Homo sapiens: one gene and its partners. The protein of the gene in region 2 purifies or fractionates together with the protein of the main gene of each other region. This does not show direct contact. Each region holds a gene or a part of one and is shown on either strand. Other genes may lie near its edges. The genes, in order: OMA1, EDEM1, RNF121, DNAJB12, BACE1, PHF6 and LAMP1.

The links.
Region 1: the proteins of EDEM1 (region 2) and OMA1 purify together in Homo sapiens (affinity purification with mass spectrometry; one large-scale study listed by BioGRID and IntAct). This does not show direct contact.
Region 3: the proteins of EDEM1 (region 2) and RNF121 purify together in Homo sapiens (affinity purification with mass spectrometry, with the first as the bait; one study listed by BioGRID). This does not show direct contact.
Region 4: the proteins of EDEM1 (region 2) and DNAJB12 purify together in Homo sapiens (affinity purification with mass spectrometry, with the first as the bait; 2 studies listed by BioGRID). This does not show direct contact.
Region 5: the proteins of EDEM1 (region 2) and BACE1 purify together in Homo sapiens (affinity purification with western blotting; one study listed by BioGRID). This does not show direct contact.
Region 6: the proteins of EDEM1 (region 2) and PHF6 purify together in Homo sapiens (affinity purification with mass spectrometry; one large-scale study listed by BioGRID and IntAct). This does not show direct contact.
Region 7: the proteins of EDEM1 (region 2) and LAMP1 purify together in Homo sapiens (affinity purification with mass spectrometry, with the first as the bait; one study listed by BioGRID). This does not show direct contact.

The regions. Positions count from the first base shown.
Region 1 is NC_000001.11:58,501,727-58,505,226, reverse strand, and holds part of OMA1 (metalloendopeptidase OMA1, mitochondrial precursor), read left to right. Parts: intron 1-3,500. UniProt on the Homo sapiens protein: Metalloprotease that is part of the quality control system in the inner membrane of mitochondria. Activated in response to various mitochondrial stress, leading to the proteolytic cleavage of target proteins, such as OPA1, UQCC3 and DELE1.
Region 2 is NC_000003.12:5,215,207-5,218,706, reverse strand, and holds part of EDEM1 (ER degradation-enhancing alpha-mannosidase-like protein 1), read right to left. Parts: intron 2,879-3,500; coding exon 2,789-2,878; 3' UTR 1-2,788. UniProt on the Homo sapiens protein: Extracts misfolded glycoproteins, but not glycoproteins undergoing productive folding, from the calnexin cycle.
Region 3 is NC_000011.10:71,991,546-71,995,045, reverse strand, and holds part of RNF121 (E3 ubiquitin ligase RNF121), read right to left. Parts: intron 328-3,500; coding exon 194-327; intron 1-193. UniProt on the Homo sapiens protein: E3 ubiquitin ligase which accepts ubiquitin and transfers it to substrates thereby promoting their degradation by the endoplasmic reticulum-associated degradation (ERAD) pathway which is a pathway involved in ubiquitin-dependent degradation of misfolded endoplasmic reticulum proteins.
Region 4 is NC_000010.11:72,335,142-72,337,919, forward strand, and holds part of DNAJB12 (dnaJ homolog subfamily B member 12), read right to left. Parts: intron 1,556-2,778; coding exon 1,383-1,555; intron 791-1,382; coding exon 669-790; 3' UTR 639-668; exon of another isoform or gene 1-638. UniProt on the Homo sapiens protein: Acts as a co-chaperone with HSPA8/Hsc70; required to promote protein folding and trafficking, prevent aggregation of client proteins, and promote unfolded proteins to endoplasmic reticulum-associated degradation (ERAD) pathway.
Region 5 is NC_000011.10:117,285,257-117,288,756, forward strand, and holds the end of BACE1 (beta-secretase 1 isoform A preproprotein), read right to left. Parts: 3' UTR 442-3,500; downstream 1-441. UniProt on the Homo sapiens protein: Responsible for the proteolytic processing of the amyloid precursor protein (APP).
Region 6 is NC_000023.11:134,414,812-134,418,311, reverse strand, and holds part of PHF6 (PHD finger protein 6), read right to left. Parts: intron 3,297-3,500; coding exon 3,192-3,296; coding exon of another isoform or gene 3,090-3,191; exon of another isoform or gene 3,020-3,089; intron 1,144-3,019; coding exon 1,010-1,143; intron 1-1,009.
Region 7 is NC_000013.11:113,300,239-113,303,738, forward strand, and holds part of LAMP1 (lysosome-associated membrane glycoprotein 1 precursor), read left to right. Parts: intron 1-3,500. UniProt on the Homo sapiens protein: Lysosomal membrane glycoprotein which plays an important role in lysosome biogenesis, lysosomal pH regulation, autophagy and cholesterol homeostasis.

The DNA of each region.
Region 1 (3,500 bases), on a different chromosome or scaffold from region 2:
TTATCCCAGCATTTTGGGAGGCTGAGGTGGGTGGATCACCTGAGGTCAGGAGTTCGAGACCAGCCTGGCCAACGGGGTGAAACCCTGTCTCTACTGAAAATACAAAATTAGGCGGGCGTGGTGGCATGCGCCTGTAATCCCAGCTACTCGGGAGATTGAGGCAGGGGAATCGCTTGAACCCTGGAGGCAGAAGTTGTAGTGAGCCGAGATCGTGCCACTGCACTCTAGTCAGCGACAGGGTGAGACTCTGTCTCAAAAAAAAAAAAGAAGTATCTTTCAGTATGACTTCAAATTCAGCCCAACAAATACGGAGTACCTCTTAAAAGAAAGAAATGATGCTAGATGTGGGGGATACAAAGAGGAATAAGATATGGTTCTTGATATTTACAGGATGCTAAGATAAATAAAAAATGATTATTAGTACAAGGATATGATTTATCATAAGAAAAATAAAAACGGTATGCAGTTTGAAGGAAGATGAATCTGCTTCTAGTTTGGGATAAGAAACTCTAGTGCAAGATTTATTCATTCATTAGGTAGATCGATATTTATTGATACTTATTGATTAATCTACTATTCTGTGTTCTATTGCTGGGGAATGAGCAAGGAACAAAACAGTCTGTTTTCTTGGAGTTAACATTCTAGTTAGGTAATGCAAATAAGAAACAAACATATAGTATGCCAAGCAATAATAAGTACCTTGGGAAAAAATAAAGCAGATTAAAGGTATTAGAGAGGGGTGGGCAGCAGAGAAGGGGTACTAGTCTATGTTCGGTTGTCAAGGAAGGCCTCACTAATCAGAATCCGGAAGGAAGCACGGGAGCAAGTCCTTTAGCTGTGTGGAGGGAGAGAGAGCCTTTTAGGCTGAGGAAGCAGCTGATGCAGAGAACCTAAAGTCAGCGTATGTTTGATGTGTTCAAGGAATAGCAAGGAAGACATTGGGGCTGAATGGAGTAAGGGAAGGGAAGAACAGTTCAAGATGAGGTGAAAGGGGACCAGACCACGCAGGATCTTCTAAGCCATTGTAAGGACTTGACTTTCACTTCAAGTGATAGGAGAAGCTAGTTGAGGATATTGAGCAGAGGAGTGACTTGATTTGACTCATGTTTTATTGTGATCACTGGCATTATTGTGTGGAGTAGACTAGTGGGGCAACGGTGGAGTCAGGGAGACTTTTTAGGAGACTCTCATAATCCTGGTAGGAGATGATGGTGGCTTGGACCAAGATATCTGGTAGCAGAAAATGGGGAAAGAATCAGTCAGATTCTGGATATATTTTGAAAGGAGTGATGACAGGATTTGTTGGTAATTTAGGCATACTTCGTGCCTTTTGTGAGCATTGAGGACAGCCAAGCATGGCTTCTTAACACCTATTTTAGTTTGTTCAGGTTGCAATAATAAAAATACCATAGACTGGGTGGCTTATAAACAACAGAAACTTACTTCTCACAGTTTGGAAGGCTGTGAAATCTTAGATCCAATTTCCAACAGATTTGGTGTCTGGTGAGGGCCCACTTCCCAGCTCATAAACAGCCATCTTCTCCTTGTAACCTCACATGGTAGAAGGGGCAAGGGAGCTCTCAAAAGCCTCTTTTATAAAAGGGTGCTAACCCATTCATGAGGGCTCCACCCTTATGACAATCGCCTCCCAAAGGCGCTTACCTCCTGATACCATCACATTGGGAGTTGGAATTTCAACATATAAATTTTGACAGGACACAGACATTCACTCTATATCAGCAGCTATCTTAACTAGATTTCATTTGTATTCTTAATTTGAAAAAAAAATTTGAGAAAGAAATAGCAGTGAAATTTACCTGATATAATATGTAGTAATTATTCCTCTTAAAAGGGTAGTATAGGCATGGGACATTATGTATTTCTTCAGTAACTGACTTGTACTGAGGATCACTGACTATAAGAGGGTCCTTTGTGCTATCCAAGGCCCCTGGGACTTTATCGCACCCTGGGAGGCCTGGGCCTGTCTCTAAAGCAATGATAACAATATGATTTTCTCTTGAATTTTTTTTCTTTTTATTTTCGCTCAATGAAATTCTAAAAATATGTGGTTTGTTTAATTGGATAATAAATTCTGTTAGCCAACTTTTCATGTGAAGACTCCTAAATTCTGAGTTGTCATTTCATCATCAAATTACTGAGCATCTTCGGAGAGGTAAAAACTGTGCTTTAGAGATGTCTTTAAAATAATAATGAATTGATTAGTGAGTAGGAAGAAAAATGGCTAGAGAAACAAATTTTATTTGGGAGCAAATGATGAAGACAAAGACGTGAGACATTTTTCTTCTAAAAATAAACTATCCTAGTTCAGAAACTTAATTTGAAAACCTCATATAATTTCTTATATTCCCCACCCCAAGTGATTAAATTCAATTTGAAAGTAATAAAACTCTATTGCAATATTGGGAATAACTCAGTGGTTGAAGTGAAACTGATAGTACAAGGGTATATTGTTAATTAGAATATACAGTCATAACTCAAAGATTGGAATTCCCTATTATTGTAGTCTAATTTCTGACATATAATGAAAGAAGGCAGTTTCTCAGGCAGTATATAGAATTATGTGAGTCTGTATACTACTACTACATTTTGAAATTATATTTTATGTAGCATGCTCTAGTGAGTATGTTATGTTCTACCTAAGGTTCCTGTCCTTTGACATCTCTAGCAGTATGGTGAAGTTATGTTCCCCTCAAAGGCAGTTGAGAATACAGCACTAGAGAGCACAGACAAATCCAGGCCAGAGATGAAGATTTCAGAGTTTCAGAGTCATCTAAAAAGAAGTGATAGTTGAAGCAATGAGAATGGATGAGTTCACGTAGGAAGTGATTAGAGAAAAAGATCAAAGTAACAGTATTGCATATTTTCCACATTTAATGGGTGGGAGGAAGACAGAGCCTGTGTTGGATCAGATTCATAGGAAATCAAGAAAGCAAATAGGAAACCAAGAAAGCAGGATTCTGTGGGTCTGTGATTAGAACACAAATTTTGATCATTTTGATTTTTAAACTTTAGCTTATTGAAGATTGTATATTTTTATTTCTTATTGGATCCCTTGCATATCATCACAAAAATGTATTGTTTCTTACTGTAGCTTATCAACTTTTAAAATGTTTTAAATTTACACTTTATGCATTCAACAAGTATTTATCAGTCATCTGTTATATGCCAGGTTGTAGGTGATGTGAAATAAATAGACAAAAATCCCTGTCCTCATGAAGCTTATTCTGCAGTAAAGGGAGACAGATAATAAATTTGGTGCTGGGGGCGGGAGTGGGGGGCAGTGAGGAGGGAGAGGCAGCTCTCTTATGTCTCTTTTTATAAAGCTACTAATCCTATTCGATCAGGGCCCCACCCTTCAGACCTCATTAAACCTTAGTTACCTCCTTTTAGGCCTTATTTCCAAATACAGTTACACTGGAGGTTGGGACTTCAAAATATGAATTTTAGAGGAACACATGAGTCCTTAGCACACAGTTATG
Region 2 (3,500 bases):
TGATTTGAAAGTTTGTTATGAGAGAATTATGCTTTGTCAAGCCAACTATAAGGCAGCTTTCTACAACAGTTCTGCAAAATGTTTCCACCACACTGAGCAAAGCTGACACTAGACACTAGCTACACGTGGGAATAGGAAGATGGGCCAGGCTCAGAGCCGCCGCAAAGGATGAAGTCCACTCAGATTTGAGGCAATCCTGGGGCAAAGCACTGAGCAAAGCAACTTCTCTGGTAATCTCCTCCTCAGCCATTCTCTACCCAGTATTTCAGAACACAGAACAGAAGAAACTGCAAAAGCCCTGCAGGATATATCACAGCTGTTAACATTCTGACTTTAAAAAAAAAAAAAAAAAACAAGTAACCTTTGAAACTGGCTCAAAGAACCTTCTGGCATCCAGCCCCACAAACCACTGACTACATAGCATCAAACTTTGGACGGGGTAGTCTGGAAGCTCAACAACCAGGATTAATATGTACTAACTCACTCACCCTCAGTCTCACCCACTGGTATTAATTCCAGTACCCAGAAGTCAAGTGGGTTTGTGACTTAACATAAAACACGTTTCCTGACAGCCTGTGGCCCCTGGGAAGCACCTGCAGCATTGTGTAGTTTGCAAGCATGAGATCCCTATTCCCTATTCCAGGAGCATGAGGAGGAAGGAACACCCAGGCTTGCTCGAGTGACAGGCAAAGTGCCTCATTAAGAGAACACTGGAGTGCTTACCCACCACTGCCGCCACAGAAGCCAGAGCGGGAGAGGAGGGGAGCGCCAAGAGAAATCACAGGCAGGAAGAACTCACCTCCTTCTCTGAGATGCTCTATTTTCCCAAATGGGTCACTAACAGTCCCACCTGTTTGCCCAGAGACAAAGGTACAAGTATGCTCGTGTGTGCATGCATGCATGTGTGTGTAATTAACATTTTCAATGAGTCAGTGAAAACATTTAAAATATATATATATATTATTCTCAAAGTTTTCTATTCAGTAGATGGGACACTGTTAATAAACAGAATAATGCTTCTGAAATGAAAAAAGGTAAAATAGAAGCATTTTATTTTTTCTATTTTAAAACAATTGTTGTAATAAATGTTTAAGAGATAGAGATGGCACGTTTATTACTGAAAATACTCTTTTCAAAAATCTCAAAGAACTGAACTATATAAAACCATAACACTTAAAATTTTCAAGAAGGAATAAGATTTCTCCCTTTTGACTAAAAATGCAACATAAACTTAGACAGTGCTTATTTCTAGCTTTGAAAAGATGTACATGAAATCCTTAGAGGTGGGAAAACAGTGACAGGTGAGAACCGTGCTATGTGAGGCTGGAAGTTTTAGGGATTTCCTACCTTTTTTACTAGAATGCGTTTCCACCCATGACGCTTCATGGAAGCCAGACTAAGAGTCAACCCTGCTGCACTGTGTAAGAGTAGCAGGTGTGTATCAGTGTGAGTTCAAAGAGAGATGTTCTGGCTAAGAAAATAATAACAAAAAAACAAAGGCATTTTAGCACAACTTCCTCCTTCTACATGCTTACTTTTACAGGATGAAAGGCAAAGACTGGCCAAGCAATTTCCATCCCCCTTTCACCACGGTCTCACCATGTGGCTAAACAGGCCTCCTGAAACCATAGCAGTAGCTGCGACATCCAGTGCCCCAAACCAAAACCAATATAAGGCACTAATCTAAAGCCTGTATTACACAGAGAAATGGCTCAAGGATGCTAAAAGTCATGTGATCATTTCTTTCTCCCTGATTTAGCTAATTGGCACTAGACACAGAAAACAGAAACAAAACAGAACTCTAACCCAAATATGGTCAGAAGTGAGAATCCTTGCTTAGGAAATATGAGAAAGATGGAAGCTCAGACAATCTTAGGTATTGTTCTCTCCCTAAAAGGCACCTGATTCTGGAACTATGGGAGTTCCTCAGGTAAGTTCATATTCAAAATGCAAAATACCACCCAAAAGATGTCAGTTAACCTCTTAGACCATAACATAATAACCTAAGAGACTATCTGTTAAGAATTCTGGTTAAGACCATTCTTCTTAAGCAAATAATTTGTAACACTGTAAAGATTACTTGAGGCAAACATGAAAAACTGGATGACTTTTTCTCCCATGTGATCCAAAATCACGGTTGGATATCAGGGGAAGACCCCAATTATCTAACAACAGAAAGGATGACATTTTCAATGCAATTAAATAGGGATACCAAATGAACCATGGGCCCTTTTGCAGAAATTTCATTCTCAATCCTCTAACAAAGAAGTAGCTAGCCAGGTACAGTGGTGCTCACCTGTAATCCCAGCTACTCGGGAGGCTGAGGCAGAAGGATCACTTGAGCCCAGGTAACCCTGTCCCAAAAAAATATCAAGACCCTGTCTCAAAAAAATAAAATATAATAAAAAAAATTTTTTAAAGACATAGCAATACTCCAGTATAGCAGGTGCCAGCAAAGTGAAGAGACTTAGGTTCTGAAGTATAAAGCTGTGAACATCAATCCAAAGATGCCCCATCTATTGTGCTTATAACATCAACATGTCATAAGAGGGCAATTTCCATGTATCTTCTCACTTCAAATTATATCCTTAACAGGGCATTTTATTGAACAGGAGAGAAACACTGAAGTGTGCAAGGATTAACCAGACGTGGTGAGGTGTTGCACAGAAATTCCTACACCACCATGGACAGCAAGACTTCTGTCCCCTTTCATTTCAGACTGGACTTTGGCATGGTCTGGGTTTGGTCGTTAAGGTCTGGTTCAAGATGAGGCCTCACAGAGAGCAGATCAAATCAAACCAACCATCTGGTCAATCTGTCGCATGTAGATGCTCTTTAAGGGCAGGGAGTACCTCCTCTCATCAGGTACACGATTGCACTAGAAAGACAAAAACGAGGGAAAATTAAAAACTCATATGTTGCTCTCTCAGGAAATGTGACTGGATGACTTAATCCAGGGTTTCTCAGCCTGTGAACTACTGACGTTTGGAAGTAACTGTTGTGGAAGCTGCCTGTACACTGCAGGACGGTCAGCAGCACCCCTTGCCTCTCCCACTAGGTGCCAGTGGCAACTCCTACGCCTCAGCTGTGAAAATCAAAAACGTCTCCAGACGCTGTTCCAATGTTCCCTGAGGAGCAAAATCACCCTCAGGTGAAGACCAGTGACATAATTTAACATCCTCACTCACTTTATAAAGAAATGGCAGATCCAGGGAAGCTAAAAGGCATCGCAGCAACTGCTTCGTGGCCAGGACTGAAAGCCACATCCCTGGGGTCCTTAGTCCGCCCAGAATTTCAGAAAACATTTCTGCTACTTGAAAATACTGTGTTTTTCTGAGCTATGTTTTTCTCATTCACAACTCACTAAACTCTAAATGCTTAAGACTATTTCTTTAATTAAAACCCCCCCACCCCCACCACTTTTTTTCCTCAAAGCAGATGCACATCTTGAGAACTAACCAACTGTGACATCCCTGGAAGCAGTTGTCTAAATACATTCA
Region 3 (3,500 bases), on a different chromosome or scaffold from region 2:
CAGGTTGTAACCACTGTTTACCTAAGAGTGGCTCTGATCTGTGGGAAAGGGTAGGGAAGGTGGCCCTCTTGTGGCTCTCCTACACTCAAGGGTCTGGACAGCATGCCTAGGGTCATGACCACCCTCTTTCTCTCTCTCACTACAGTGTGCAGATTGCAGGAGAGATGTGGCCCAGGAGCTCGAGGCAGGATACACATGATTGCAGGACAGCCTATACGTGTTCTCAATGATCCCCTCTTCACTGACGTCCACAAAGATCTGCTGCCCACACACAGCACACACACTGTCTGAAAGATGTTTGGTAGGCATGCCCGACTCGCTGTAGAACTGAAGGAGAATAGCAGGAAGGAAAGATAGGAAAAGATGTGAGAAGCAGCCAAAGTAGGAAGCTCCACAGAGACCTCAGGCCTTCTAGAGAAGAGGCACAGTGGCAGCGGGAGGCCCAGAGTTAGAGGACATCTTTTTTTTTTTAAACTGTTTAGAAAAGGTAATCTTTTACAAGTCAAATCGACCTCATCTTTGCTGGGCAGATGGGGAGAAGTGACCAGACTAGAGACAGTTGGGAAGTTAGATGTAACAGAACCTATAAACTGGGCTGGATCAGCACCAAAGGATAAGGGGAAGGGGAGGGAGAAGGACTTGGGGCTGGTGATCAAAAGCTGTGTCAGGCAAGCCATTCTGTCGCCAGACTATGGTTCCACCAGAAATGGACAACAATATTCTCCAACATTTAAAACAGTGAAATATTAAGTGCCATGTTGGTTTGGTGACAAGGGCATTCTCAGACATTTGTGGCAGCAGCAAAAGGGGTTCAAGCCTTTCAGATAGGATTTAGCATGGTATCTCAAATTGTTGCACCTTTTGACCCATTAATTTCACTTCAAGGAATTTAAAGAAATAAGAGGAGGCTGGGCGCGGTGGCTGACGCCTGTAACCCCAGCACTTTGGGAGGCCAAGGAGGGCGGATCACGAGGTCAGGAGATCGAGAGCATCCTAACTAACACAGTGAAACCCCGTCTCTACTAAAAATACAAAAAATTAGCCAGGCATGGTGGGGGGCGCCTGTAGTCCCAGCTACTCAGGAGGCTGAGGCAGGAGAATGGCGTGAACCCGGGAGGCAGAGCTTGCAGTGAGCCGAGATCGCACCACTGCACTCCAGCCTGGGCAACAGACCGAGACTCCATCTCAAAAAAAAAAAAAAAAAGAGGAAGTGTCAAAGAAGCTTCATGAATACAGATATTCACTTAAGCATTATCATAATTAAGAAAGCAAAGAGTTTGGCATGTCCTCAAAAAGTTAAACATAAAATTACCAAATGACCAAGCAATTCCATTCTCGGTATAAACCCAAAAGATATGAAACTAGGGACTAAACACACTTAAACGCCAGTGCTCACAGCGTTACTCACAGTAGCCAAAAAGTGGAAACAACTCAAGTGCCTATCCACAGATGAATGAATAAACCAAATGCGGTGTCACACACAATGGAATACTATTCAGCCATATAAAGGAATGATACATTCTATACATGGATGAACTCTGAAAACACTACGCTAAGTGAAAAAAGCCAAAGGGACAAATATTGTATGATTCCATTTACATGAAATATCTACAATAGGCATGTTCACAGAGATGGAAAGTATATTAGAGGTAAACCAGGGCTGTGGGAAGGGGTAATGAGTTACTGCTTAATGGGCAGAGTTTCTGTTTGGGATGAAGAAAAATTTTGGAATTAGACAGTGAAAATGTTGCAGAACACTGCAAATGTAATTAATGCATGAATTGTATACTTCAAAATGGTCAAAATGGTGACATGGTCTAGAAATCTCTTCTGGGGAGTAAACTGGTTAAAGGAAGATCCAATGTCTACACAAATAGGTAAGAGGGAAATGAAGGTAAAGCACAAGACAGTTGTTCAAAAAGGAACCTAATAAACTGTCAATAAAGTGATCCAATGTACTGTTTTCAATTTGATCCAGTAGAGAAAAAATTAGAATATTCCCATGATACTGAGGGACAAAGTCCCTGGCCTTAAACGGTACTAGATTAAAGTTACCCAAGGTGATGGAAATATTCCTTCTTGGGGTGGGGTCTTGGGGGATGACACTGAGACAGGGAGCACTTCTGTGTTGTTTAAATAATTACAAAGAGAACATACTACTTTTATAAACAGCAAAACAATAAAGATATATTTCCATTCTGAAAAAAAAAATAGAAATATTTACTTGCGTTTCTCAGATTGGCTGTTAATTTACCCATATTTAAGCATCTCTCCGTGATGTCCACCTGCTGCTCTTGCAGCATTTCCTATCTCAGTGAAAGGTACTACCATCCAAGCAGTTGCCGAATCAGAAATCTCAGCTTTGAAACCTATATTTCCTTTGTATTTTTCCCTTCAGTCTTCAGAACCAAACTATATCTAAGTCCAAAATACTTCTCAAATACAGTATGTCCTCACTTCACTGACAGTTTCTTGGAAACTGTGACTTTAAATGAAACGACATATAACAAAACCAATTTTACCACAGGCTAATTGATAGAAACAAGAGTTCAGTTCCTGTGTCATATTTCTGTCACAAAGACATCACTAAACCTCTATTTAAGAGACACCAAATTGTCTCTTAAGTAAAGACTCAAAACACTTTTAATATTAAATGTTGAAATGAAATGTGTAGCTTTACACATACAGTTAAAGATTAACAAAGCAAGTATGAAAGCTTCCCCAATTTTTGGTAAAGCAGTAAGTGACAGTGGCTGTTGTTGTAGCGGCTGTGGGTTAAATCAAGGAATAAGAGTTCACAAAGTAAAAATTGTAAGGAGCAACTCCTACCACTGTGCAGTTCAAAAACAATTACCAATATGGACTAAGCACTTTTGTGCCCCATCATTTATTGTTGTGCCTTTGCATGATTATTATACATTTTGTGAATTTTTACTTATTTAGAGACAACGTCTTGCTCTGTTGCCCAGGCTGGAGTTTGGTGGCATGAACAAGCTCACTGCAAGGCTCAAGTGACTTCCCACCTTGGTCTCCAAAGTAGCTGGGACTACAGGCATGTGCCACCACGCCCGGCTAGGTTTTTTTTTTTTTTGTCTCATTTTTTTGTAGAGATGGGGTCTCACTATGGTGCTCAGGCTGGTCTTGAACTCCTGGGCTCAAGCAATCTGCCTGCCTCAGCCTCCCAAAGTGAGCCACTGTGCCCGGCCCCTCCCAGGATTTTTAGCATAAAAATCAAAATCTTTAATTTGGCCCACAGGCTTTTTTCTAGTCTAGTCACTACTTCTCCAGGCACTTCTTGGCCATACAACCGCAATGGTCTTAGTTCCTCAAAAACACCCACACTTTCTCCCGTGACAGGACTCTTATGAATGCTCTTTCCTCTGCCTGGTTCTCACTTCATCCACTTAACTGCTATTCATTGTTCAAGTCAGCTCCATAGTCACTTCTTCAAGGAAGCCATCTTTGAGCCCCAAGACTAGGTCAAATGACACTACTACATG
Region 4 (2,778 bases), on a different chromosome or scaffold from region 2:
GTGACGGCATTCGAGAGAGTGCCTCAGATCCCACCAGAGGGGGGTGGTCAGGGCCCGCGGCCCCTGCCGCCACCAAGACTGCCAGCTCCCACCCACCTCGTGGCTGCCTGTTCATCTTGCTCCATTTCCTCCTAGCTGGAGGGATGGAGAAAGGGGAGGGCTCTTGGCCCACCTATTCCCACATGGTTCTTCCTGGTATCAGGCAGGCAGTGTGCATATGGGGCTCTCTTGGGCCCCACCATATGTGATGGCCTAAATACCAGGGCACGGACAATAGTCTGCTGTGCTGGAGAAAGGGCCGTGCTGACTGATGGCTGGAGTGGACCAAGAAGCCCCGGGTGGCCCTCAGCAACAGTTTCAAGTTCCCACTCTGCCTGGTTCTGGGGTCCCCCACACCCCTGGAGCCAGGGAGCAGAGCGGAGGAGTGGGGAGGACAGCATCGCTAGAGGGCGGAAACCGACCTTGGTTTCCCAGCAGGCCCCACAGCTGCTCGGTCTCTGGAGGCTGGAGGTCAGGCTGGGGACAGGAGTCTTTGCCACAATCACCAGGCTTCCTCCCTTTCTCCCCCTCCCTCCTCTGCTCATGACCAGGGCCAAAGCTGCCAGGAGTTGCAGGGTGGAGGCAGCCCTGGCTCATACTTGGACCTCGGTGGTGTGGCTGGCCCAGGACTATCCATGCAGGGAGGCCTGCACCTCTGACAGTCGGCTGCAGCTGGGGGTGCCCATCTTCTGTGCTCTGTGGTACATATCTGTGTCGCCAAAGTAGCGTGCCCGGTACAGCAAGCCTTCCTCTGCAAAGCAATGGGACAGGGTTAGTGCACACCCAGTACCTCCCGAAGCCTGCAAGGAAGCCTGCGAGGGCTGTGGAGGGCGGAGGAAAGCTGGTACATGCCCGGGGCTTGGGCAGGGCTGGCCTCCCATTAGGAAGACCATGGAGGAGCAGAGACTACAGTCCTTATGTGGGCGAGGGTGACAGAGGCGCCTTTCTCTAGAATGCAGTGAGGCCAGCCAAGGTGAGACCCTGTCATCCTGGTCAGGCCTCCCCAGGGTCCCACAGACAGATCCAGGAGCACAGTCAGGGGGTGGCCAGGGATCCATCCGCTCCAGTCCATCTCTACACACTCACCTCTGGCAGCCAACATGCTGGGCTGATGGCAGTGATTTACGGGAACCTGAGGAAACTACCAGGTGGCCCCTGGCTCCCAGCCCCGGAGAAACACAGGAGTGGAGACCAGCTCTTGTCTGGGAGGTGGCTGGTGCAGGGCAGTGCCAGGGGCTGGGCCCTCAGAGCACAGGGTGAGCAGGGCTCTCTCCTTCCCCTGCTTTCCAGCTTCATCCCAAGCCACCTCCCAAATACAGCCCCCGCCTTCCCCCCACACTCACTCTGCTGCTTCTCCTTCCAGCAGTTGTTCCGGAGGTTGGCGATATAATCATCTTCCACATTCCGCTCGACTGTTTTGAGGCTGGAGCCTGTGTACTCTTCGGAGAAAGTGTCTCCCACATAGTAGACGACACCCAGGTGGTCAGTGACTCGCCTGTGGATGTGGCCCACGGACCTGGCCAGAAATACCAGGTTCAAAGTGGGTGCGGGTCCCCATGCCCAGGGCACTCTAGGGGTATGGGCCCCAAGACAGGAGGTGCCGCACAGACCAGAGGAGTAGTTGGTTCCCTCTCAAACCAGAGCAGGGACCCGCACACTCCCTGAAAGGAGAGTCTGAGGAAAAGGCAGCGTCCTCCCACACACGTGGCCCAGACCGCAGGACGCCCTGCCTTTAGATCCCTGCTTACCACACTGCTGACCTGGGGCCTTTGGGGAGAGGCCTGGTCTAGGGAACTGGAGACCTGAGAGGGAATCTGGGCTCTGCCTCTGTGCCTCCATCTCCCCATTCATCCCCTAAGCCAATTGTTGCTGAGTGCTTGCCTGCCTATCTAGGAGTTCCCAGTGTAGGGTTAAGAGGCTTAGGAACAAAATGACAGGAAGGGCTCCAGGGAGCCTTATCCTCCCAGCTCCAATCACAGGCTCTGTCAGCTGTGGGAAGAGCCTTGACACCCAGACAGGACCAGTGCTCTGGGGACAACAGTCCCTGCCCTAGTCCTCTGCTCCTCACATCTCTCCAGTTGCAGGGAAAAGGGCTGGCATCTGGCCACAGGGAGCCTGAGCCGGCGGCCAGGGTCCAGTGGACCGACTCTGCCCCCTGCTGGCTGAGAAGGGTCCTGCCAGCTCCCAGCCAGAGGTGGCCACCTTTTGGGAGAGGGGGACCCACCCCACTGAAGATGTGCACCCACTGTGTAGCTGACCCTGGGCCAGGTGCTGGACATCAGTGAGGGGAGCTGACCCCCTAACGGCTCATGAAATGTCCTCAAGTTCACTCCTGGCAGTCGAGACTAAGCATTCATTAAACTAATATTGTTGAGCATTTCTAGTGGGCCAGACATTTTATATGCATTACTCATTAATTTCCACAGCAGGTGGATGTTATAATTCCCATTTTATAGATGAGGAAACCAAGGTTATATAACTTGTTTAGGGTCACACAGCTTCTTAGTGGAGAAGCTGGGATTCTAAGCCATGCTTGCTCTGTCTGACTCTAGTGCCCTGTTCTTTCCACAGCCTCAGGAAGCCCAACCAGAGCCGAGGAGCAGAGGTTCTTCGTCAGGGTTGGCAGGGGAGATGGGCAGGGAAGAGTCACAAAGCCGCCGAAATTATATGCAAAACTCTGTGTGTATATGTGTGCGTGTATGTGTGCATGTGTATTATGTGTGTGCATGTATTGTGTGT
Region 5 (3,500 bases), on a different chromosome or scaffold from region 2:
TGTACATTTTTATTATATAGGTAATGTGTGTATAGAAAGTCTGTATTCCAATGTTCGTAAATGAAACTATGTATATTATGCAGAAACAGTCTGTTCCCCCTCATCTTGCAATTCCTTTGGGGGATGCAGATTGTAGGGAAGATGATGTTTAGTTTGGCCTTGAAATTATGATATCCCTGCCCAGGGCTGTTTTCAAATACAATATAAAAACCACCTAGGAACCTGCTGTTGCTCTAAGGCCATTCTGCTTTGGTTTGGCTCAGCCTCTAGTCCATTTCCTTAAGGCTCATGTATGCAGATTTAAAGCCTGGTGCTCACCCACTGTCCAACCAGATGCCTTGCTTACCGAAAGCCTCCAGAAGCCTCAGTATTGTTTTAGCCACTCTACTCCAAATGGATAAAATGAGACTCTGATTGAGGAAAAAAAAGTAACCCTAGTAGTTTGACTTCTTATTGAATATTTTACTGTGTTAACGCTCATTATTTATACAGACATTAGGTTTACAGAATATTCTGTTTTACATCACCAAAATTCACAGTCCGAGAATAACAACATAACCAGGTCCCAATTCCTCCATGTACCCCACAAGCTTCTGTCCACCCTATTTTCTGGACAGAAATTAGCACAACCCACAGGTTTTTCCTGGGCCAAGTCTTCCTTTGCTGCCACTGTCTTGGCTTCTAATCAAGCTCTGACAGGCCAACATTGTGAAGTCCTCACCCTTTCCCATTCACTTCTGGTCTCCTAGTCTAGCTAATCCCCCTCCCCCAGAAGGTTAAGGCAGTTGGTTCACAACCAAGTTGTTTGGTGACCTTGGGTGAGCTCCAGACAGGCACTGGGGTGAGGAGATGTCTGTGCAAAATTACTTGTAGAATGATCTTGGGATGCTGGATTTTAATTTTTGAAGCAAGAAAGTTAGGGGGGGACATATTTCCTGTCCTGGGAAAAATGGAGACCAAAGTGATATTAAGAAAGTAGTTTGGATTTCAAATTTATAAATCACTTGCTCTGTGGGTAGCTATCAGGAACTAGATCATTTTCCACCTCTGCTTATTGTACTTCTTAATTTTAGGTTTTATACCTGGGAAAGCTGTGACTCTATTAGAGCTTTGAATCTTTTCCTATCCTTTTATCTTTACTCCTACAGGGAATGGCCTCAGCTCCCTTCTCTTTTAGAATTAAACAAGTAAAAACTAAGAGTTAACTTTTTAAAAAAACTGACTCCAGGGAAAGGACATTATTATATTACCAATAGCTGATTTTTTTTTCCATTCTGGGACCTAAAATGCTTACAGGTACTAGCAGTACATGTCGGATAGCAAAGACTTTTCCTTTCAGACCCAACTAAATGATCTCCTTTCTGCCTTTGATACTCTTTTCCTTCTTTGTCTTTCATCCTTGCCTATCACCTCACAGATGGATTCTTCCTCATTTCTCTTGCCTCACTTGCCCAGGTTTATTGACTAGCGTCAGTTTAAGGAGCTGGACTTCCTGGGACCTCCTTGGCATCTTGTAGGGTGATTGGAGTGGCCTGAGTACTCAGCTCTTCAGAGGTCAGGTGACCCACTTTCTTTGGTTAATGAAATGTTACTGTCTCCAGGTTAGTAGCTGTCATGAACAGGAAAGGTGGCAAAATGGAAGACCAGTTCTATTGTTCTTTTTGTTTAGGGGATTCGTTTTTTATCTTGTAATCTTAAGATTTCCTCTCCCCTCAACTTTACAGCAGCCTTAGGCCACCTGCCGTATTTTTCAGTATCCCCTGCAAATTTAGAAATTGAAAATGAGTGTAAAGCATATTGTTTCTTTTCCAAAATCCTTTGAAGCCAAAGGAGTAAAGAAAGAAAAAAGGAAGGGGTGAGGAGGGGGCTTAACTGCTTCCCAGTAAAGACCCTGGAAAGCCCACTCTTGCAGGAGGATAAGTGTTTTGGAGAGTTGTGCATGGGAGCGAGCGCCTCAGTGTTACTCTTTCTTGTTCAGGATCAGTCAGAAAGCAACACAAGTGTTGGCGACCCCTGTTCTCCCTTCTCCCTCTGTCCACTGGCCTGCAATGATAAAAGACATGCAGACCAATGGGAAAGGCCCCAAATGCAGTGAGTGGAGAATGGGACAGTCATTTTTCAGGAGCAGAATTTAAAAATACAGATGTATAATACATATTTTTACAAGCAAGAAGCTGTTGTTAAGACTTTTTTTTACACTTAGAGTTTATAATTTTGGGGCAGGAAGGAAGTAACTGTAAAAAGAAAAACAAGTGCAAGTTTTCTTTAAAAAAATAATAGGCTGATGGGACTTGCTATCGAAGGGGTTGAGTTTTATGCCCTGGAAAGGGCTGGGAAAAAGCCAGTTTTTCCCAACATGGGTAGAAATTATAAAGCAAAATGTGGCATTTTCACTTCATGGTAGCAGTTCTGAAAGTTTATTTACACAGTAAGTTCCGAGCTAGAAGTGGACAGTCTCCAGTCTTCCTGTCAGACTCTGTAGTTATGGGGTGTTCCCAGTCAGCCAAAGCAGCACCAAGTGCAGTGGGAATGAAGAGAACCCAGATAAAAAACTGACTCAGTATTCTTGTTTTATTGGTTTATGGCTTGTGGGCAGCTGGCTGAGGCCAGGAACACCAGAGGCCCTCCTTGTATTTCCCTCTCCCTTATCAGGTAATTCCACACTTAGCAGGTCCCATACCTGGAAGCAGCGGGTTGACCAGGTAGGAGTAGGATGCAGTGGGTATACTAGGAAAACCCAGCTCTTCCCACTAACACTGGTACCGTAGTTTACTATGCTAGAACTGATAGGGAGGTAATGAACTTGGTCCCCACTACCTAGCCCAAGAACCAGCCTGGGTACCCACGTACCATTAGGAGCGGGGAGGGGAAGAACAGGATAGGGGAAAAAGATGACCTTCATCAAGGAGCTCTTGTGGTGGAGGACATAAGGAAGCCCTGAGGCTGCCATCCTTTCTCCAGGCAGCCTTGATACTGAAGGCAGTAATGTTAGAGCCATAAAGCACTGTATTTCTCATACTCTTGGTATAATGCTAGTGCCACTGTGTGATGCTTTAGTCAAATAAATGGAGGGGCCATTAGAGAGGGTAGGAAGGCAATGAAACCACTCTGAATTATGTAAAGATCTTGCTACTTCTTATAGCCTAATAGGAAGAAATCCAGGCAGGGGTTATAGGGCATCAGCTGTTGAATGAATGTTCAACATTATGCTTTTAAGGATTAGATAGAAGAGGTCTCCTACCTATTCCTTTTAGCACCTTGGCTGCAAAGCTCCAGAGGAAGATTTGGGGGAAAGAGTGAGCCTATGACCAGGAAGACAGAGCCCAGCCCTGCTATAGTCCAGTTGCTCTCCCACAGGGCACCTGGAGCTTAGGGGGTTAGGATATTTCAGTGCTGCCTATCATATGTAGAATAAAGGGTGGTTCAGATAGAGACAATGAAATTAATATGGCAGAAATTCATGTGTTAAGTGGAACTTCTTAGTGGGCACTTCATTTAAG
Region 6 (3,500 bases), on a different chromosome or scaffold from region 2:
CATACTTTACTTTTTCACCATCTTCTCAAGAGAATCTTTTGCCTTCTGTCTACCATATCCTATTCTAAGCTACCAATAATTCTCACCTGGACCACCAGCACTAGCCTCCTAACACATCTCCCCATTTCCACCTCTGCTTCTGTCTCACCCGGGGCTCTTGCATATGCTCTTCTCTCTGCCCAGAATACCTCCCCCAACCAAGGCTCACCTTTGTCCTTAATATCTCAGCTTAAAGCTGAGCACTATTTCCTTCAGAACATTTTAAATACTCCCCACTACAGACTAGGTTAGCTCTTCCTTCTTATACGCTCTCATAACACTTTGTAACTTCTTTAGAACACTTACGCTGCTATGTTGTAATTGCATATTTGGCCACTTAAATAATAGGTCTCTCCCAATAGACTGTAAGCTTCATGAGGAGAGTATATGTAGTGTTTTTTTTTTGTTTGTTTGAGATGGAATTTCACTCTTGTTGCTCAGGCTGGAGTGCAATGGCGCAATCTTGGCTCACTGCAACCTCTGCCTCCTGGGTTCAAGCGATTCTCCTGCCTCAGCCTCCCGAGTAGCTGGGATTACAGGTGCCTGCCACCACACCTGGGTAATTTTTGTATTTTAGTAGAGACGGGGTTTCACCATGTTGGTCAGGCTGGTCTCGAACTTCTGACCTCAGGTGATTCACCCGCCTCGGCCTCCCAAAGTGCTGGGATTACAGATGTGAGCCACCGCACCCGGCCCAGTGTATGTAGTTTTGATCACTGGCATATGCCCAGCTTCAAGCACAATGGCTGGCACATAGGAAGCCTAACTAATATTGGATGGATGAATGCTAATCCAGGGATATGTAGTCAGAGGAAAATGCCAATTGTAGTACTCATTCCTTACATAATGTGCTCAGTATTCTATACTTAACTAAACACCATTTAAGAACAGAGACTGAGTAAACTAATGTCATCTATTTAAGGACGGTTACTAACATGTTTAGGGAAATAGACAACTGTTGTTTTCTTACTTGTAAATTCCTCGTGACATATTTTCAATGTATTTAGCTTTGTCTTGTACTCCACAGTGGTAATGGTAAGTCTTAACACAGGCTTTTATTTCACATCCAATAGTAGCACCAGGCTGACTGCAAAGTGTACATTTCTGTATAAGGAAAGAGAAATAATCGTAAGCCGTATTTCAAGAAAACAGCAGCTATTTTCTATTGAAAAAGAGTACACTGAAATTATCACATAGCATATAACTGAAATAATGCTGCAACTTAAACCATACTTTGATAAGCCCTCTAATATTGTCATCCCCTGATGTTTCCCTTATTTAACATTTATAAACTGCTGGCTTATTAGAAAAACTACTGACCATCCCAGGTCTGACATCTAAATGTAGATAAGATTCTCCTCAATGCTGCCAAATACACAAAAAGAATGATGTTGTATATCTTAGTGGTTGGCTTCTTTTCTTCCCTAAGATCAGATCCTTTCCTATTATGATTAGGGGAAAGAATAAGAAACCAGAAAAGCAATCCTCCCACAGAGGAATTGCTACCAGTAGACAAAAGTACAGAGGGAGACTAAAGGGGCTGAAATCTTTTCAAAACTTCTCAGTTTGGCCTAGATAAACCTTGCCTGAAGAATGTTCGGAGATTAAAAGGTACCTGTTGAAAAGGGGGTTTCAAGTCAAATAAGTTTGAGAAAGGATAGGTTAAGCAGATCACTTTATTGCAGGACTTCTCACAGCCTTTTCTCCAAGGGAGGGGGCACAGAGTAAACAGTTTTCAAGTTTATTGAAATCTAGATGCCCTTTTATCTCTGGAGGGGTGGGGGAACATCTTGATGGACTAACTTCCTTTGGAGCACACTTGGGGGAAATGCTAGGTTAGTGTTTACCCCAATCCTCAATGGTACAGAGGTAAACAATAAGTTGGCAAGATAATTGAATTGTTATCTTAGTCACCTGTTTGGACTTTAGCTGTATTATACAACACTGCTCTGAATAATATGATGAAGTGGTTTTTCCTTTTTTCAGTACTACAGGCTCTGTTACGAAAGTTTCATTTTTAGCCGGGTGCTCACGCCTGTAATCCCAGCACTTTGGGAAGCCGAGGTGGGTGGATCACATGAGGTCAGGAGTTCATGACAAGCCTGGCCAACATAATGAAACCCTGTCTCTACTAAAAATACAAAAATTATCCAGGCGTGTTGGTGCATGTCTGTAATCCCAGCTACTTTGGAAACTGAGGCACGGGAATCACTTGAACCCGGGAGGCAGAGGTTACAGTGAGCCGAGATCGCACCACTGCACCCCAGCCTGGGCGACAGAGTGAGACTCTGTCTCAAAAAAATAAAAAAATAAAAAATAAACAAAAAAATTGTAAGGTATAATGACATTGTGGTTAGGTAAGAAAATGTCCAATTATTAAGAGATACATACTCAACTACATGGAGGTATAGTGATACGAAGTCTGAGGTCTGCTTTAAAATACTTCAAGCAACAAGAATAAAAGGCCTATATGAAACAAGCGCCACAAATTTAGGTAACTGATGAAGCAAGATGATGGATAGATACATGTTACTAGGCTTTCCAATTGCGGTATGTTTGAAAATTTTCCCAACAAAAAAATTTAAAAATTAATTTCTAGAAATAACCGACATAGCATTCATAAGTGTTAAAGGAGTAAGCGATCAATAAAGATGCCAACATTTCTTAGAGCTACTTGTTGGTAATTCAGTATGTTTAACAACATGAGACTAAGGCGTATTTTATATTATTTTATTTAAAAAACCTTAAAGCTATGACAAACATTTTAAGAGGCAGCCCTGTGTATGTGTTCTTTAAACAGAAAGCCCTGAAAAAAATTTCCTTTAAGCAAGCTTACACAATGTAACATTTTAAACTTAATGAAGTTTGTCACATTCATATCTTCATTTATTTTATTAAACGGCTTGCAAATGCCTTGAAATGTATATAAATCTTCTCAGTATAATTCTCTTAAAGTAATGAAGTTACATAGAGAAATAAGTTTCAGTAACATCAGCATCCTTTATTATATTACAAATAAGTCAAATATATACTTTGCTTTAACATACGAACTACTTTAAATTTTCTGATGACTGGATAAATTTGGGATGTACTCTAAATTTAAAGCAGCAAATCAAGTGTAATGTTGCATAACAAATATAAAAACTACAGACCATTCTTTTTCCTCGTTTAATCTCCTGAAGTACAGTTTTAATATCAAAGTCTCCAAATTCTGCTCTTGATGTTGTTGTGAGCTGGACTGTGCCAGAAGAAAACAACTAGAGAAGAAAAATGCAGGAAAATTAACATTCAGAATCCTTATGAGAGAAACATTAAATGTGATAACAAGTGTGTTATATTTAATTTCCGAAGAAAGATAATCTTTCCTTAATAATCAAGTATCTGCTCAAATATTTTTAATATATTTACATGTCTGATTAAAATATAACCAAAATTATGGACATTGAAATAAAATGAGGACT
Region 7 (3,500 bases), on a different chromosome or scaffold from region 2:
GGGAGGCCCAGGTGGGCGGATCAGCTGAAGTCAGGGGTTTGAGACCAGCCTGGCCAATGTGGTGAAACCCCGTCTCTACTAAGAATACAAAAATTAGCCAGGCGTGGTGTGGTGGCAGGCGCCTGTAATTCCAGCTACGTGGGAGGCTGAGGCAGGAGAATTGCTTGAACCTGGGAGGCAGGGGTTGCAGGGAGCTGAGATCGTGCCATTGCACTCCAGCCTGGGCAACAAAATCGAAACTCAATGTCAAAAAAAAAAAAAAAAAAAGAAAAAGAAAAGAAAGAAAAGCTGGGTGTGGTGGCTCATGCCTGTAATCCCAGCACTTTGGGAGGCTGAGGCAGGCCGATCACTAGGTCAAGAGATCGAGACCATCCTGGCCACAACATGGTGAAACTCCATCTCTATTCTTTTTAAAAATATTTTTAAAAAGTTAGCCAGGCGTAGTGGCACAGGCCTGTAGTCCCAGTTACTCAGGAGGCTGAGGCAGGAGAACTGCTTGAACCCGGAAGGTGGAGGTTGCAGTGAGCCGAGATCGTGCCACTGCTCTTCAGGGCAACAGAGCGAGACTCCATCTCAAAAAAACAAAGAAAAAAATTTTTTTTCTACTAACCGATGTTACCTTTGATTGTGCAGATTGTCAGTTATGCGGTGGAAAGAATGAATTTGTCAGCAGATTTGAGGTCAGAATGTCTTTGTAGCCCTGTAATTTTGAATTTGTATTGCATTAGCCCCATCCCAGACAACGTTACCCTTTCTTCTCTGTACCCAAGACTTTTATTGCATGTGCTTCTACATGGTAACATCTGTTCGGCTGCACTGGGATTATTTTTGCCTGTGTATCTCCCTTCCTTAACTGACAGGTAGTAAGTGCTGAGTACATATATGAAGAAAGGATCAATTTTATAGCAGTGGCTCTCAACCAAACATATGCACGGATCCACACGATCAGCTTTTTAGAAATATACATACCACAGCGAGGCACAGTGGCTCATGCCTGTCATCTCAGTGCTTTGAGGCTAAGGCAGGAGGATTGCTTGAGATCAGCCTGGGCAACATGGCGAGACCAGTGTCTCTACAAAAAAAATTAAAAAGAAATATACGGCCGGGCACGGTGGCTGTCACGTGTAATCCTAACACTTTGGGAGGCCGAGGTGGGTGGATTGCCTGAGCTCAGGAGTTCGAGACCAGCCTGGGCAATATGGTGAAATCCCATCTCTACTAAAATACAAAAAAAATTAGTCGGGCATGGTGGCGTACCCCTGTAGTCATAGCTACTTGGAAGGCTGAGGTAGGAGAATTGCTTGAGCCCGGGAGGCGGAGGTTGCAGTGAGCGAAGATCATGCTACTGGACTCCAGCCTGGGTGACAGAGTGAGACTCTGTTTCCATTTAAAAAAAAAAAAAAAAAATATATATATATATATATATATATATATATATATATATATATATATATTTACACACACACACACTTATACCTTGCCTCTAGAGGTTGTGATTCAGTGCCTGGGATGGTATTTTTTTCCTTTAGTTCTTCATAAATGATTGTGCATCATTGGTTAAGTAGAATAAAAATACCATATTTAAAAGAATCAAGCCAAGAAAAACTAAGATGTGATTTCTTTTTTTTTTTTTTTTTTTTTTGAGACGGAGTCTCGCTCTGTCGCCCAGGCTGGAGTGCAGTGGTGCGATCTCGGCTCACTGCAAGCTCCGCCTCCCAGGTTCACGCCATTCTCCTGCCTCAGCCTCCCGAGTACCAGGGATTACAGGCATGCGCCACCATGCCCGGCTAATTTTGTATTTTTAGTGGTGACAGGGTTTCTCCATGTTTGGTCAGGCTGGTCTCAAACGCCTAACCTCAGGTGATCTGCCCACCTCGGCCTCCCAAAGTGCTGGGATTACAGGCGGTAGCCACCACACCCAGCCTAAGATGTAATTTCTTAATAAATTGTTTTTTCTTCTTTTTTTGAGACAGTCTCTTTATGTTGTCCAGTCTGGAGTGCAGTGGCACGATCTCAGCTCACTGCAACCTCCACCTCCCGGGTTCAAGTGATTCTTCTGCCTCAGCCTCCCGAGTAGCTGAGACTACAGGCATGCGCCACCATGCCCGTCTAATTTTTGTATATATTTTTTAGTAGAGACGGGGTTTCACCATGCTAGCTAGGCTAGTCTCAAACTCCTGACCTCAGGTGATCCGCCTGCCTCAGCCTCCCAAAGTGCTGGGATTACAGGCTGGGATTACGGGCTGTGCCCGGCCTAATTTTTTAAAATGAAGTTTTTTACTCATTTCTTCAGATGGTAATCTTTAATGTCAAAAGCGAGTATTTCTTAATTTTTATTTATTTTAATTCAAAAAAATTAAATTTTTTTTTTAAGAGACAAGGTCTTGCTGTGTTGACCAGCCTGGTCTGGAACTCCTAACCTCAAGCAGTCCTCCGCTTCCTCAGCCTCCCAAAGTGCTGAGATTACAGGCATGAGCCACTGCACCCAGCCAGTGTTTCCTCATTGGAAGCCCGTTCCCTCAGTCATCAAGTGCTGGAGAGGCAGCGTGGCTCAGAAGTGGCACGTCCTGTGAGTCAGAAGACCCCTTCTAGATCTAGGTCTCCGCCACTCACTAGCTGTGTGACCTGGGTGGGTTAGTTGACCTCTCTATGCCTTAATCTCCCTATGAAGAGTTGTCATGATAACTGGGATGTGCTTAGAGCAGCACCTGGCACAAAGTAAGTGCATTCCAAGTGCTTGTTAAATGAGATAGTTTTTGATGTTTTGTGTCAGATACTGAGGATTGAATGATGAACTTGATGGGAACCCTCTGTACCTGTGCAGATGTTTAATAACAGCTGACATCAAAGCTGGCGTCAGTGCCGGGCACCAAATGCTCAGCTGCTCCGACAGCCCTGAGGCCTTGGCACTCTCTCCTCCTGCTCGTGGGTGCAGAGACTGGGGATTGGGCTCTGCTACTGGCCATGGTTGCACAGCTAGTAAGTGCTGCAAGAACCTCCAAGAACTGAGGGCTGTGACTCAGAAGCACGCATGCTTCCCACAGCGGCACTTGTTTCAGAGAACAGAATTTCTCCCAAGTGGGGGTATTTTGAAGCCACAGTTACTCCTTTATGTGATCCCTGGAGAAGTGGTCCTGTTCGTGTCTGAGTACAGGACTGCCGGAGATAGCAGTCACCAGTAGGCCAGGGTGCCCACCTTGGAGATGCTGCCAACGGCTGTCCTGTTGGGCTGTGACACCTGTCAGGTTACTGGAAACATTGTAACTTACTTGAGGTTTTTTGTCTTTTTTTTTTTTTGCTACCCAGTTGCCACTGTTGTGGAGGTTTTTAAAAAAACTTCTGACCCTTATAGCATACATACATTTCCTCCTCAAGCTCTGTGTGCTGATGCTCTTATTTTCTTCTATACCAAAATTGCCTTCTGAGGGTAAGTTTATTTTAATAACTCAAAATTCCTGGGTCTCTCCAGAGTAATACAGGCATCTTGTGCTGCCAAAGCT